Homo sapiens: one gene and its partners. The protein of the gene in region 1 interacts with the protein of each later gene in a biochemical or structural test. Each region holds a gene or a part of one and is shown on either strand. Other genes may lie near its edges. The genes, in order: MAP3K7, SLC9A1 and CYLD.

What was found.
Region 2: the proteins of MAP3K7 (region 1) and SLC9A1 form a complex in vitro, tested with the Homo sapiens proteins (one large-scale study listed by IntAct).
Region 3: the proteins of MAP3K7 (region 1) and CYLD form a complex in vitro, tested with the Homo sapiens proteins (one study listed by BioGRID).

Annotation. Positions count from the first base shown.
Region 1 is NC_000006.12:90,517,573-90,521,225, reverse strand, and holds part of MAP3K7 (mitogen-activated protein kinase kinase kinase 7), read left to right. Parts: intron 1-1,906; coding exon 1,907-1,968; intron 1,969-2,663; coding exon 2,664-2,779; intron 2,780-3,653. UniProt on the Homo sapiens protein: Serine/threonine kinase which acts as an essential component of the MAP kinase signal transduction pathway. Plays an important role in the cascades of cellular responses evoked by changes in the environment.
Region 2 is NC_000001.11:27,113,518-27,117,170, reverse strand, and holds part of SLC9A1 (sodium/hydrogen exchanger 1), read left to right. Parts: intron 1-2,884; coding exon 2,885-3,345; intron 3,346-3,653. UniProt on the Homo sapiens protein: Electroneutral Na(+) /H(+) antiporter that extrudes Na(+) in exchange for external protons driven by the inward sodium ion chemical gradient, protecting cells from acidification that occurs from metabolism.
Region 3 is NC_000016.10:50,794,086-50,797,738, reverse strand, and holds part of CYLD (ubiquitin carboxyl-terminal hydrolase CYLD), read right to left. Parts: intron 3,528-3,653; coding exon 3,311-3,527; intron 1,416-3,310; coding exon 1,231-1,415; 3' UTR 1-1,230. UniProt on the Homo sapiens protein: Deubiquitinase that specifically cleaves 'Lys-63'- and linear 'Met-1'-linked polyubiquitin chains and is involved in NF-kappa-B activation and TNF-alpha-induced necroptosis.

The DNA of each region.
Region 1 (3,653 bases):
TGTGACCAATTATTGCTAGTAGAGATTGGAAGTTCAATATCAATTTAGTGTAAAGTGAGAAAGTGAAATCCCACTTCTTTTTTTAGAGAGAAGATGAAATTCAATGAAGGACCTTAAGTTCCCCACCATACAAGGGCTTTAATTATTTGAATAACACAATCCTTGGACTTTTTTTCTGCTCCCAGAATACCACGCAACACTGATGTATTAAGCTTAATTCTAAAATACATATCAGATACAGGGTGCTGATATAATGAGATATATAATGTATCAGTGATTTAAGAAAGAATAATAGGAATGGAAATCTTAAATTGAAACTTTTTCAAGACACTTAAATTTTTCTAGTAAATCAGGAGGAAATCAGTCATTTTTAATCAGTTTTAGTTTTGTGGAAAGCAGTGTTTATGTGGGAGCGTAGTTTGAAACCACTGTTGGGGTGGGAGAAGAGTTGGTCAGAGAAATAACAAATTAAGTATATTTCTTGTTTAGCCACTTCAGAAAAACACACATTTATGTTAGTACTGTATATGAGCCTTAAGGGTAAGGGTAAGTGCCTTAAGTCTCTACTGTTTTTCTGTATTGCCCTGCAATATTTAATAAACATTACTTTTTCAATATGGAATTCATACTATACTATTTTAAATTGTTCTTTCTAATTCTCCATTTAGTATGAATAATAATGATAACTACCGTCATGTATTGAGTGCTTAATATACGCCAGGATTTGCATGGTGTTCCTCACATGCACTGGCTCATTTGGTCTGATTTCGCTAATTAGCTTTTGGAGTTTCTTGAGAGCACGTTCTCAGTGGCTTTAAAAAAACAAAAACAAAAGCAAAAAGAAAAAAAAACACCTGGATTATCAGTTGACAATAAATTAGAAGATTACTGAGCCAGCAACCCTTCTTGAGTTTTTTTGGATTGCATACAGTGCGTCTGCTGTCTTCCTGACTTGCCTTTATCCACACCACTCCTTCAAGGAGTTATTCGTCAGAAAAAGGCTGAAGAGCTCACTCATTTAGCTCTTTTTTTGTCTACTAACAGTGGGAAAGCAACTACTTCTGAAGTAGAAAAGTCTGTATTGCTTCAGAGTTACTCTGTTTACTTCTGGAACTGTTCTACATAACCATAAATGTTGAGAAGAGACTGTCCCACGCATCTCAGTCAAGTTGTATGGCAGTTTTACCTCTTTTGAAATATAAACAAAAGCATTCTATTCAAATAATTTTATAAAATTGACTGATTGTTTGAATTAATCAACTTAACTGTTTTCGGCATGACATTGAGCCACAGGTTTCAACCTCATTTTGGTTCCTTACTGTTCGTATTTGTAATATACTCTCATCACCAACATCTCGTTTTCTGCAGTGATTCTTACTGGGAAGGGCAGGATGAGTGGTGGAGGTCACATTATAATCTATATAAATTGAAAATGATCCACTGGAAGAGAATGTGTCTCTGCTTTCTCCCTTTCCCTGTTAAGGAACATTGATATTAGCGGAGTTGATATAGCCTTCTATAAAATAAACTTAGCATGATAAAGAAAAGAGATGGGGAGTTTGATTAGATAGGGTCAATTAAGACTGAATTTAAAATATAAAGGTCTCATCACTGTTTTTGTTTTTAATTAAGAGCTTAGAAGCTCTAATATATTGTGTTCTATTCAGTTTATAGCCAACTTAAATTATAGGTATGAGAATATAATTGCATTCTAATATCTGATAATTGAATATCCTTTTTTTAACCTTTAGAATTCAGAAATAGACTCTTCAATTACCAATAGCTGTAACTTTTAATTTACATATTATTTACTTTAGGGAAAAAAAGCATTTCATTCATGCTTTCTTGCTGTTCGTTTATAATTATTTGTGACAGAAAATCAATAAAATACATGCTTGAATTCCAGATACCAATGGATCAGATAACTCCATCCCAATGGCTTATCTTACACTGGATCACCAACTACAGGTAAAGGAGTACTTTCTTATTGAAAGTTGACTTTTTTCTTCTTAGAGAGTTTAAGTTGACAATTGTGTTGCTACCTGTCATTGTATAGTCACTCCTTAATTTATCCTTTTAGTTGGCCTCCTTAAACTTTTTAGAATCAAATCAAAATAATTCTTTTGGTTAAGTTAATCAAACTTTAAATTGGCAGAATCATATTCTTATCTTTTCAGTCATCTTAAAATCCTCCAGTATCTTTCTTTAGTACTGCTAAGCATTACATTTTCACTCTTTAATTTTAGTGCATTAAAACAAAACTCATAAGCTTATTTCTATTTAATACATTTGTGATACATTCTCATGTTCATAGTGACTGAAAATGTAAATAATATACTTCAGTGCCCCCTCATGAGTATGAGGGCTATAAACATCATTTAGTTTGAGCCTGTTTGCAGCCTGAAATGTCATACCAGAGACTACAACTCCAACAATCATGATTCTCTGTAACAGACTGTTAAAACAGCAAGAATAGATTTAAATGCTGAGTTAATTCTGACAAAAGGACACTGAGATTTTCTAGGGCATGGTTTAACACTTATTTTTAAAAGATCATTGCTTTAGTGCTATAAAAATATATCACAGTCTCTGTCTTGACTCTCATCTTAGCTAGATATTGAAATTTGATTTAATTATGTTTTAACATTCCTGATTATTTTCAGCCTCTAGCACCGTGCCCAAACTCCAAAGAATCTATGGCAGTGTTTGAACAGCATTGTAAAATGGCACAAGAATATATGAAAGTTCAAACAGAAATTGCATTGTTATTACAGAGAAAGTAAGTTATTTTTTATGAATAAAAATAAAAATACATTAGTATTTTGAGTTTAAAATATGATAAGGTGCAATGAAAACGTAGTTTTTAGAATTAGTCATTAAGTATACTTTCAACTTGTTTAAGCTTTAAGCACCCTTTTACTAAAAATTTTTTATGCAAAACTCAATCCTTTTGACTATCATATTAGTGCTATGGAAAATAAACTGGTGCTTTATACTTGTTGTTTTATGTTCTCAGAGCTGTTTAGACTTATTATTATAAAGATTTATTGTTTTCTTGTAAATAGATAAAATAATTTGATTTATTAACATTCAGTTGTGCCTTATCTTAGAAACATTTTTGTAGATACATTTTTTCCAGGTGTATGTTTAGAATTGGATTACTTATTAAAAGACTGTATTTCATAACTGAGTGTTTTTCTGAGGAGTTATAGAAACTGCCTTCCTCCCTTTTTAAAGAAACACAGCCTAATTTCCTTACTACTGCATTCACAGTTCTTAAATATGTATGTATCTTCAGTTTTCTTAAGCATGACCTCCATGAAATTTTATACTTAGGTAACTGAATTGTTGGTGGTAACTAAAATGAAGTGATAAGGAAAAAATTTTGGCAACTTTATATATGTATGATAATAGGATTCCCTTCATTAATTTTAATCTAAATAAATGAAAGTTGTTTTTTTCTGAATTTGCGAAAAGCTTTCTGTATGTACTTCAAAAAAAAGAGAGAAAAAATTGTTTTATCATAATTTATTGATACAGTGATTTAAATGGAACCAACCTGGTATTTGAAAGGTAAGCCTAAATAGGAAATTAAATACTACAGTTTGGAAATCGTAGAAGTAATTATCAAACTGCTGGCACTTTTATGTTGA
Region 2 (3,653 bases), on another chromosome or scaffold:
TCTTTGGGGTCTGATGCCATTGTCTTGTCTCAGCTGCTTCTGCCTGGGTTGTCTGACTGATCTCGGTGGGTGCCAGGAAGAGAGAGAGGAACCTGGGAGATGACTGTGGATTGAAGGTTATGAGAGAGGGAAGCACCAGAAGATTCCTGCCCTAACCTGAGCAGACAGGTGGTGGTCAGGGAATGCTTCCTGAAGGAGGAGGCAGGCAGAGGATATGGTGTCAGCCACATATGGTGGGGGTAGAGGTAGAGGAATGATTTCTAGAGAGAGGAACTAGACTAGGTGAAGATTGGCAGGCAAAAGAGGATGTGGCTCATATGGGGCAATTGCAAGGAATTTGGCAAGGCTGAAACCTAAGAGTTGACAGTGGGGAGAATGGGACATGAGGCAAGAGCAGATGACAGAGGCAGTGCTGAAAATGTGGGCTTTATCCTCTACAGCAAGAGAGACTTGGGTCCAACATGACTAGCCCTTCCCAGTGGACCAGCCAGCTACACACTGGATGTTGACTGGTGGACAGTACAAAGACTGGGGGACTTTTCAGCAAAAGGGGTGATTTTGGAATTATTTTCCCTTTTATTGATGTGGGAAGTAGATGAACAAAAAGTGACTTTTGGTCATGTCTATTTTGAAATCAGGAGAATGCACATGGTGCCTTCGAGGTCCTCTTGGCCTAGGATGGAGACATCTTTTTTTCCCAATGTGTTTTGAGTGTCTTCAGGGTGCTTGGCACTGTGCCAGGATTCTGGGCCTGGATAGTGTTCAGTGTGTGAACTTTTTTTTTTCAAGATGGAGTCTTGCTCTGTTGCCCAGGCTGGAGTGCAGTGGAGTGATCTTGGCTGGAGCTCAGTGGCGTGATCTCGGCTCACTGCAACTTCTACCTCCTGTGTTCAAGCAATTCTCCTGTCTCAGCCTCCCAAGTAGCTGGGAATACAAGCACCCACCACCACGCCTGGCCAATTTTTATATTTTTAGTAGAGACAGGGTTTCACCATATTGGTCAGGCTGGTCTTGAATTCCTGACCTCAGGTGATCCACCCACCTCGGCCTCCCAAAGTGCTGGGATTACAGGCGTGAGCTACCGTGCCCAGCCAGCAGTGTGAACTTTGACTTGTCACCGTACTAGCACTGCCCAGATTCCTACCTGAGAGTAGGAAGGGCTTTGGGCATGGAGAGGGAAGTTCCTCCTCTGTCCCAAGGATCTCAAGAGTAAGTAATGAGAGCAGAGGCCTGGCCAGGCATGCAGGTTATCGGAAATCTTGGGTGATGTCCCAGCCCTGTGTATTTTCAAGTCAGCTGATATTTGTTGAGCACTTCTTGTGTCCTAGCCCTGGGTGTATAATGATAAGCAGTTATGGGATCTGCCTGCACAGAGCTTGCAAGATAGGGAAGGGGAGGAGAGAGAGCTTTGCTTTCTTCTTTCTTTTTTTTTTTTGAGGCTGGGCTCAAGTGATCTTCCTGCCTCGGCCCTCCTAACTAGCTGAGACTACAGGTGCATACCATGCCCAGCTATTTTTTTTAAGTGGAGATGAGGTCTCCTATGTTGTACAAGCTGGTGTCAAATTATTGGCCTCAAGTGTTCCTCCCACCTCAGCCTCCTAAAATGCTGGGATACAGGCATGAGCCACCATGCCAGGCCAGAGAGAGCTTTCCTCTTGAGCAAAGGGACAAACCCTCTTGGCTATGCCAACCCTGGGAGCATAGTACCCAACATACAACTAGATGCTCAGATTTTTTTCCACCTACTTTCCCACCCCAAAACAAAACAAACAAGTAAACCACTCACAGGAGCTCAGGGTTCTCTGGCCATACCTGATATTGAGAGAGGCCCTCTCAACGGGGATTTTTGCTACTCCTCAGCTCTGGGTTTGAAGCCTTAAGGTGGACTACAGCAGAGCGGCCTGTTGCTGGCCAGGACACGGCCTGGGGAGATGGCTGGTGGGTCCCAGGCAGAGGGGTGTGTGAGGAGGCCTTGATGGGAGGGAAGGATAGGAGAGCTTGAATTACAGAACTGTGCAGTTTGATGGGAACTGGGGCATCAGACCTGTGTTCTATTCTAGTTCTGCTCCCCACTTGCTGTGTGACTTTGGGCAAGTCCCTTCCCTTTTCTGAGCCTTAGTTGCCCCATCTTTAAAGTGGGTGGCATTGAGCTAGAAGCGGGATAGCAAATAGATTTTATCTCACCTGCCAAAGCTGGTTGCCACTGACATCCTTGAGCCGTGTCTTGAGCAGCTGCCTGGACTCAGTAGGAAAGCCTACTGTTTTGCAGGTTTGCAGACCCCAGGCCTTATTATCCCCAAGTTCCTTCCCACGCTGGTATTCTTAGATTCTTCTGTGCTTTCTTCTGTCTCCTATGCCACTCCCCACCAGCTGGTTGTCTGCCTTCTGCTTAAACAGCTCCGTGATAGGGAACTACCATCTTCCCTCAGACAGAATTGTTAGATTGTTATTCCTCAGGTTGAGCTCAGATCTGCCTCCCTGAACTTGTGCCTGGAATAATGCCTTGGGTTCAGGCGTAGGTGATGCCCGTAGGTACTTGGCACGTCAGTAATCAATTTATAATTTCTGCCTTCTGGAAGCATATAGAACTGCTGCTTTCTAACATTTTATGACAGTGACAGAGATAGCATGTATATATCCTTTGAAAAAAGTGCTTTAAAAACACTGTCACTTGGTTTATGATGGCAAACCTGTGAAGCTAGCATTGTCCCTTCCATTTTACAGGCGAGGAAGCGGAGGCTCAGAGAGTTAACAGAGCAGCCCTCTGAGACCCAGCCTGTGCACCTCTCACCAACTGCGCTCCTCATCCCCGGCCCATCCCCAACCTTCTATTCTCCTGGCTCCTCCGAAAGCCCATGGCCTCCCGTTCTCTCGCCCTCCGCAGGTTTCCATGTGATCCCCACTATCTCAAGCATCGTCCCGGAGAGCTGCCTGCTGATCGTGGTGGGGCTGCTGGTGGGGGGCCTGATCAAGGGTGTAGGCGAGACACCCCCCTTCCTGCAGTCCGACGTCTTCTTCCTCTTCCTGCTGCCGCCCATCATCCTGGATGCGGGCTACTTCCTGCCACTGCGGCAGTTCACAGAAAACCTGGGCACCATCCTGATCTTTGCCGTGGTGGGCACGCTGTGGAACGCCTTCTTCCTGGGCGGCCTCATGTACGCCGTGTGCCTGGTGGGCGGTGAGCAGATCAACAACATCGGCCTCCTGGACAACCTGCTCTTCGGCAGCATCATCTCGGCCGTGGACCCCGTGGCGGTTCTGGCTGTCTTTGAGGAAATTCACATCAATGAGCTGCTGCACATCCTTGTTTTTGGGGAGTCCTTGCTCAATGACGCCGTCACTGTGGTGAGGAGGCCAGGGGCCATGCCCATGTCCAAACGGTACAAACCCAAATCCAGGCCCACCAGTGAATCCCTCATCCACCCGCTAATAACAGTAATAAAAACAGCTGAGGCACATTCCCGCTTCCCGTATGCCAGGCACCATGCTGAGCCCTTCGGCATGGATTATCTCATTTAAGTCCTCATGGCTGCCTTAAGAGGTGCTTATTATTCTCATTTTCCAGGGGAGACACAGGCCCAAAGAAGTTAAATAACCTGTTGGAGTATGAACCAGTTTGTGATTGAACCAGGTCTGACTGACTCCAGGGCCTA
Region 3 (3,653 bases), on another chromosome or scaffold:
GACTTTTCTGCCTTTCTGCACAGTTAGAAAGTCATTCAGGAAAGACAATGATACCACAAAACAACACTCAGAGAATGCACATTCCACAGCACTGACATGTATCATCTATGGTCCTGGTCTACAACATCCGCTGTGGTCTAAACACACACTATGGCTGTTATTAAACAAAACATCCCATTTCTACTTACTTTAATCAGAAGGAGGATGAAGCTGCTGCTAACATTTCGATAACATATCTGATTCTATCAAGTGAAACTACACTGAATTTAATGGGAGTACTGGCTGACAGATCAAACTTAAGTTCTAGACAGTCTTGTCTAAAATAATAGAGGTTTAAATATCCATCTCTCCCAGGAAATTGTAATAATTCTATATGCCAAATTCATTTTCTTATGGACTGTATGTTTGTAAAGGACTATTATCACTCCAATTCTTTCATCAATTTACTTTGCCCCATTCCATAAAATATTAATAGTTAAAAGCCTTAAAAAACCTGTTAGCTGACAGTAACTACTATGAATGAAGAGCTTCAACTGCTAAATACCCTAATCCTCCAGGAAAATCACTTCAAAAATGGACATTTGGGGACAGAATCACTCATTTATCTCAAAACCAGAACAAATAGAAAACAACACCATTAAGGGAATTTAAGTATTTTTCTGACCACTATTGCAGAAACACAGAAAAACTGAGCAGATTGTAGACATGCAAGATCAGCAGTATATAGAAAGGATTAACAAATCAAACTCAGTACATCTCTAATAACTGGATTGAGAGTAGACTCTTAATAAAACCAAATTATTTCTTCCTCAAGGCAACCGTTAGCTACAAAAGAAAAATGATTTCATATCCTTGGTCCATAAAGAAGACACATTTATTTACATTCTCAATGGACTAAAAGAGGCTTTAAACTTCCACAATTAAAATTGTATGCTTCCAAAAATATCATATGATCAATGCACTTAACTTAAAGCTTCAGGTATTAATAACTTCATTTAGACTTCTTAAAAAACCAACACAAACATACTTTCTAGAGTGCAAAATGCTTCTTATTAAATACTTCAGGGACACAAAAGCAATTTGTTTTTAAACAGAGGCATCCTTTTCTGAAGGATCATCACCACAAAGACATCCATTGCCGGCAATGGACGTGAACAGAACTGCCAGCTCGAATAAGATGCAACGTTAGGACTCTGCCTTCAGTTTCTTTGCCTTTCCCGATGACCCCAGTTATTTGTACAAACTCATTGTTGGACTCTGGTACATGCACATATATGCATCACAAAGCAGTCTTCGTGCACAGCCTTGGATTCTCCTGGAGTCCAAGGAATGCAGGTCTTCCAGAGACATCTTCAAGTACTCTCCTACTTCTGGGCATGGGGTGACTTGAGGAATGTTGAAGCCATTCTGACCACCTATGGCACAGAGGAAGAACTCTTTATAGGGCAGTCAAGTTCTAAACCCTTTTGCCAGTGATTTTATAATCCTATCATTTCCAAAAAGCTAATTTCAGGCTCTAAAAGCCTTTATTTTACTTCTGATTTCTGGAAGTGAAAGCCTCCTTTAACCCTTGACATATTCTCATTTCTTGGTTTCTGAAAGGATTCTGGGGCCAACAGTGAATAAACCTGGTAAAAGGACACGAATTCTGAGGTAAGCCCCCAACCTACTTTCCAGACTTCTCTCTGAATCATATTATCAATACATATGTAGACGACACTCTGTTCCTCACATTTCATTTCCTCCCAGACACAAGCCACCCAGCACACTTCACCATAAGACTGTCCAATTTGGAATAGATCTAGTCAAATGAACGCTATTATAGCTCCCTACACTTTAAACACATCCTTACGCAACTCTAATACAGTTTGTTTGACACATCACCAGGCCCTGATGAAGGTGCTCTGGGGTGTGATTTCAGAGATTCCAGGAAAGGCTCCTCTGGGTTACCTCAGTGGCTTTTCCAAACCTATGCTGTTGTGTTACGCTGTTTAGTGCAAATGTTAACTGGGTTGGGGGCACATCTACAGATGGGGCTGGGATGTATCCCTCAAGCATCAGAGAACTGAGAAAAGGTGGAGAACTCTTGATCTAGGGCCTGGGCCTCTGTTCAAGAGGCTGCCACAGGGAATGTCTTAGGCTACTGGAGGGCCACACCAGAAGGCCGTGGGGGCTGGATCTGAGAGAGCAGCTAAAGGAAAAATAGGGTATAAGAATGGAGGAACATGAGAGTCACACCTCACAACCTTGCCCAGGCCTGGTCTTAACCTGCAAACTCCTTATAGGTAGAGGCAGGGCTGCTTTAACAAACATTTCTTACCTACAACCCACTATCCTGCCTGGCATTCATTAAGCATTAGTTAAATAATGATTAAGCATCCTAGAAAGTGGCCTGGCAACTGCAGCCTATTCCCCACTTCAGGGAGAAAGATACTACATGCAGAAGAGGCTTTACTTTTCTGAAAAGGATGTTTACTTCTGCTCTCAGCTTTTGGCAATTGGAAGATAACATGGTTTAGTACAAAAAAACATATGCACTGAGATCAGAAAGACTGAGTTAAACACAAACTACAATACCTCAAGCCCCTTAAACCTCAGCTTTAATAACAGAAAAACAGGAATAATCCCCATCTTGCCAGGATTTAGGTAGAATGACTTAATGGTGCTCAATAAACAGCTACCGTGGCTCCTACAAAAATGAGAGGGGCCTGAAAGAAGACAGCGAAGCTGGAAATAAGATCCCTCAGGGCTGAAATAAGAATTTTAGGATTCTTTTTTTTAAAAAAAGAGCATATGCATGTCAAAATATCACAATATGAGGCTGGGTGCACTGGCTCCTCTTGTAATCCCAGCACATCGAGAGGAAAAGGAGGGTTAATCACTTGAGGCCAGGAATTTGAGACCAGCTTGGGCAACATGGCAGAAGCCCATCTCTACTAAAAATACAAAAATTAGCCAGGCATGGTGGCATATGCGTGTAGTCCCAGCTACTCAGGAGGCTGAGGTGGGAGGATTGCTTGAACCTGAGAGGTGGAGGTTGCAATGAGCCAAGATCACGCTGCTGCACTCCAGCCTGGGTGACAGAGTGAGACTCCATCTCAAAAAAGGAAAAAAAAAAACACAGCATATTATTCCTTAGTTCAGCTAGCAAGGTTGTTAATGCAATCCAAGATATAAGACTGTTGTCACCAGAATAATCCTGAAAGGATTTTCTCAGAAAATATCACTCAGAACAGGCGATCCCACTACAAACTGTCCCACTACAAACCAGAACCCTGTGCCACATGCAGAAGAAAGGCGTTTTCAGTACCATCCCGATCGGCCATGCTGTCAAAGAAGAGCCAGGCAGAATCGTCCTTCCCATACTTCACAAAAGCAACATAGTGGCTTGTTTCTATGCAGAGAACAGCAAATAACTCCATATTCTGGCAAGGGATGCAGCCGTGTCTCCAGTCCCAGTCGGGTAAGTCTTTGGGAAGTGACACTGGGTTATATTTATGATTCAGCCTCTTCGGATGAAGGTGGACCTAAAATGGACCATGAAAAGAATGTCATTAGGCCGAGGCTGGTGGATCACGAGGTCAGGAGTTCAAGACCAGCCTGATCAAGATGGTGAAACCCTGTCTCTGTTAAAAATACAAAAATTAGCTGGG